Linked DNA regions of Homo sapiens. The protein of the gene in region 1 purifies or fractionates together with the protein of each later gene. This does not show direct contact. Each region holds a gene or a part of one and is shown in the gene's direction. Other genes may lie near its edges.

What was found.
Region 2: the proteins of HCN1 (region 1) and FAM89A purify together in Homo sapiens (co-immunoprecipitation; one large-scale study listed by IntAct). This does not show direct contact.

What each region holds. Positions count from the first base shown.
Region 1 is NC_000005.10:45,256,589-45,259,599, reverse strand, and holds part of HCN1 (potassium/sodium hyperpolarization-activated cyclic nucleotide-gated channel 1), read left to right. Parts: 3' UTR 1-3,011. UniProt on the Homo sapiens protein: Hyperpolarization-activated ion channel that are permeable to sodium and potassium ions. Displays lower selectivity for K(+) over Na(+) ions.
Region 2 is NC_000001.11:231,018,458-231,020,856, reverse strand, and holds the end of FAM89A (protein FAM89A), read left to right. Parts: intron 1-730; coding exon 731-994; 3' UTR 995-1,899; downstream 1,900-2,399.

The sequences.
Region 1 (3,011 bases):
AATAAAAAGGTACAGGGTAAATTATATACATATATGTATGAATGTATATATACTTAGATTAAGAAAAAAAAATGACTCACATTCCTGTAATATAAAGGTCCATTGCTAGTTGAAAAGTGACCTCTTTTCTCTGTACATAGTGAAGCCCGTATGTATGGAGTTTTAATCTGTACAGAAAGAAATGTATTATTCATTGGTCTTTCTGCTGCTGGAAAGATAATAGAATAGCTGATTCTTACAACAACTGTATGATCAGGGATGAGTTAGAGTATTTCTTTTGTCTTTGCTCAAAGCCATACATATATAAATATATATAAAGATTATTAATAAATTCAACAAAAAATAAACTACAATCATGAATATTTTATTTTATCAATATATGCTAATCAAATGTTTTATTTTATTAATGAGTACAGCTTTGCCTCTATTTTTACATCATAAAATTTCCAAGAGCTTATACTTGATAATCACATAAAATCAATTATATTCTATAATTCTGGAATGAGAGGACTTTAAATAGAACATGGATTTTTCAACCACTTCTTTGTTTACCTTTTTCGTATAGTAAAATATGAGCTTATTTTCTTTTTTGCTCTGTGCCTTTTTAGAATGTGGTTGTTCTCCAACTTCAAAACACAACCATTTTGTGTAATTATTGGATATACAGATGAGAAATAATTTTCCTGTAATAATGGTAAATAATTGTCCTGTAATATATTTATACAAACCTATTTTGTTATAATAGTTCTATGACATACCTATTTTGTTATAATAGTTTTATAACATACCTATTTTGTTATAATAGGGCCTTGGGCTCTATTATAACAAAACAGGTTTATATAAATACATTCATATTTATAGCCTTAAACAAAATAGGTTTGTATAGTAGGCCCAAGGCCCTATTATAACAAAATAGGTTTGTATAAATATATTCATATTTATAGCCTTGGGCCCTGCAAAGTTATTTGGAGAGTGATAGAACCTCCCCACACAAGTGGGTTTTAAATGATACCTAAAAGCCTGAGATAGAGTTTATCATAATGAGAATAAGTAGTGAAGCATTCCTGAAAACAAGGAGGATAAATAGTAGCAATGGCAATATATTCTATTCACCAAAAAAGTAGCTTGTCTCCAGGTCTGGATGACCTCTTCATAAGTGAACAATTCCCTGATGAATGCTGTTCCACTTTAAAGAGATGGTTATTTTGCAATTTATAAACTTAACTGAGCATACTATTTTCAGGACACTACAAAGTACATAGTCAAGTTATTACCGTCATTCCTATAGGACAGAGAATGATTTAAACAATATGACATGTTTAAAATTTTAGATGATTTATTTCAAATCCTGAATTATGTCTACTTCAAATTATGAGCAATCTCTATTATCTTTCAGGACTATTTAAAAAATCTCCATACCTCCTCTTTCAGCTTAGGTTTTTATATTTGTTAATTTTACTATGTTACTTTGCTTCTATGGCCCTCACTTGCACTGTTTATAATGTTAACCTGTTTGAATGAGATATCTCTCCATTATATCTTTATCTTTTTAGAACATGTGCCATAAAACCCATGTGGTTATTTTGTTCATATGCACTACAACTAGCAAACTTTTATTTTATGTTCACCTACTTTAAAAAGTACTCATACTGTACCATGGGAAAGAAACATGGGCCTTATAGAATGGAATGCTGAGCTATTTTGAGTCCTGAAAACAATGGCCAAAAATTTAAGGAACTGTGGTTGCTGCATGCACCAAATTGTAGCACATACAAATAAATAAAATACAGTTCTATAACTGTATTCAATATGGTTATTTTCAAGGAAAAATAGGATAGAAATTTTCTTTGAAAGATTTGCTATTGTACTTAGGGAAGTACACCTGCTATTACCCCTCAAAAGCAATGACTTTCTTAAGCAATTTCAATTTTTTTCCTTTTTAACAACCCTGCACTTGCACAACCCTGCATCTCTTGTCTCACCCTAATGCTGACCCTGCTTCCAATTCAGGCTTTGACAGGGACAAATGGAGATTTTAAGGTTTTTTAATGAGAGAAGCCTTGCTGACACTCCCCGCATCCCACCTTGAAAATTATTTAAAGATGATCTTAAAAGAACCTACAGATAATGCTCTGAATTTGTTTACAAGGTCCTTGATGTGGAGAGAATGAGTAATACATTAAATGCTGGGGAAATAATTATCATTTAGTGAAAAATTAAGCATGCTTTTCTAAAATGTGGATGTTTAACAGAGCACAGCTGATTGGGAACACTGGCAGTTCAATGCAGCTGGAGTGTCTCACAGGGTGAAGAGGAACCCAGATCAAGTGGGAAATAGGGATTTCAAAAACCTTCTGAAAGGCTTTTAACATCAGGGCAAAGGTTTTACAGTGTTGTACTTTATATTCTTAATTTAAGCTTATCAACGGGGAGGATTCACATTGAAATGTCTGTTTTGCTAATGTAACAAGGAATAAAATAATTTATGACACAGCAAAAACTGGGGGCTATTTACAACCCCACCCTGCCTTGTGAGGATGCTGGGTCCTAAGGAAGGTCCTAGGTTTGCTAAATAGAGTAATGGGAATAGGAAACTGAAAGTTTACTTGCTTTGCGTAAGATAATATATTGCGGCAGGGAAGGGGTACAAGAAGATAAGAGCTAGAACCTGTGAGAAGGGAAAGAAGTGATAAAATAATTTTGGCTAAAATAAAGCAAGTTCTCAGGCCAGGCGTGGTGGCTCATGCCTGTAATCCTAGCACTTTGGGAGGCCAAAGTGGGAGGAATGCTTGAGGCCAGGAATTGGAGACCAACCAGGGCAGCATGTCAAGACCTGGTCTCTACAAGGAAAAAAAATTTTTTTAATTGACCAGTATATACTTACATACCTGCAGTGTTTAGAAAACCCGACTATAGGTGGTGTATTCCTGTAGTCCTAGTTACTCAGAAAGTTAAGGCAGGAGGATCGCTTGAACTTAGGAGGTCAAGGCTGCAGTGAGCCCTGTTCGTTC
Region 2 (2,399 bases), on another chromosome or scaffold:
TAAACAAGTATATGACTTTTATAAATGTTCTGTGTTCTTTTGCTGCTTGTTTTTGTGGGGCTAGTTTTCAGGAGGAACTGTAGAGCCCTTCATCTTCCAGGGCTTCCTCATATTCAGTCAGTTACTCTGGGGAGGGATCCCAGAACCATCTGGGATAAGACTGACCCTGCCTGGAGGAGAGGGAGGCAGTGTAACCTCTGACCACTGAACTGCACAGAGGTGGGTGCTCCAGGGGGATGTCACGTTGGCCAGCTGCTGTCACTGGCAAAGGGCATTCTGTTGCCCCTGGGAGTTGAGAATGACTGCATCAGTCAGATCCTAACGCAGTAGCAGGGAAGGCCAATGTGGGTCTTCTCCGAGTCTGATTGGGAGAGGAAGTGACACACTCGTTTCTTGGCGTCCAAAGTGAAAGCAGGTGGGGCCACTAGAATATGCAGTGCTGTTGCTTCATCAGGCACACTCAGGAGCGCCAGGGTAAATTCTGCAGGCTGCCCTGGTTGCCCCACAGATGCGATCCTCACTGGACTCAATGAGTAACGTCTGAGGTATGGGCATAACACAATTAAGGTGTTCTCAAAACTGGAAATCCAAAGCATCCGAGTGATGCTCTGAATCATGCGCCGTGTGGAAGGAATGTGCTGGCAGGCGCAGATCGCCGGCTGAGTGTTCCACTGAAATTAAACTCAAGTGCTGACTTCTCGTTTTTTACCTCCCCACCCCTTCCCTCAAGGTTGGTCTCCGCCAGCTGGACATGTCCTTGCTCTGCCAACTGTACAGCCTCTACGAGTCGATTCAGGAGTACAAGGGGGCATGCCAGGCAGCCTCCAGCCCAGACTGCACTTACGCTCTGGAGAACGGCTTCTTCGATGAAGAGGAGGAATATTTCCAGGAGCAGAACTCCCTGCACGACAGGAGGGACCGAGGCCCTCCTCGGGACTTGTCACTGCCTGTCTCCTCCCTCTCCAGCAGCGACTGGATTCTGGAGTCCATCTAGAGGGTCTTGGGAGGGATGTGACTGTTGGGAAGCCCTTCCTACTGGACACGCTGTCATCATTTGCTGCTTCTCTTGCAAGAAAGCACCTCCGTTGTGGACGGTCCTCGGGCACAGGGGATGAGCGCTACCAGTTTCATTTGTAGGCAGGGAGTTCTCCGCGGATGCATGGTGGCAGTCTGCTTTGATGGCAGCAGTTTCTGCTTAGGTGACCTAGAGGTCCTCAGCAGTATCCTCCACACCTATTTATTGAGGTGCACCTGCTGGGGATTCATAATGAGAATATAACAAGAGGATCTCGGTGAAAGGCCTTAGTGGGTGTTTTGTGTGAGGTGGCTTGTAGCTAGCTACTTCCTTACAGATGGTAGAGTATTCCAATCCTCTTTGTGTTAGGGTTCTTGCTTCCAGTTTGGGATGTATTAAAACCACCATTTCACTGCTTCCCTTCCTCAATATGCTCTGCAGCTTTTCTTGCTGTTTAAACCTCTCGCCTCAGCTTTATTTATTTGTAAGCTGCATTACTAACTGCCCAGTGATTCGGTGAAAGCTTTTTACTGAAAAAGTTAACATTTCTAGTCATCCCAATCAACTGGCTTTTTTCAACCAAAATTTTATATCATTCTTTGTCTATCAGATACGAGAGGAAGGAAGATAATACGAAGACATGTTGAATAGTGAAAAAAAAAAAAAGAACACAAAAACTGGGGCAAGCCAATGTGATGTATCACTCACTGTAAGATGGCAAATGTTTTCATTTTTAAGATTCCGAATGTAAACTAGTGTGCTAGAAAGCAAACCACCCGCCACTCAAACCAGTAATTACCTTAAGCCTTAATATATTTATTAAAATACTTTATGAGAACATTACACTTTGTAGGTTAAAAATGAGGATAAAATGCTAAACTATCTGTGTCATGTGTTATTTTATTCTGAATTTGGAATCATCAACTTTCATGACTTGAATGCATTGAGTCCAGTCAAATAATGAAAGAAAATTAGTTTGTTTTTCTGCCACTAAATGCATTTGAAACAAGATTGACTCTGTTGAGCTTAAGGAATCGTTTTAGCAAGAGTAGATCACCATTTACAGCTGGTTCTCAGTGCTCTTTTTTTTCTTTGAGACGGAGTCTAGCTCTGCTGCCTAGGCTGGAGTGCAGTGGCACGATCTTGGCTCCCTGCAACCTCTGCCTCTCTGGGTTTAAGCAATTCTCCCACCTCAGCCTTCCGAGTAGCTGGGATTACAGGCGCCTGCCACCACGCCCAGCTGATTTTTGTATTTTTAATGGAGATGGGGTTTCACTGTGTTGTCCTAGCTGGTCTTGAACTCCTGACCTCGTGATCCACCCGCCTCGGCCTCCCAAAGTGCTGGGATTACAAGTGTGAGCCACCATGCCTGGCTGCTCTTCTG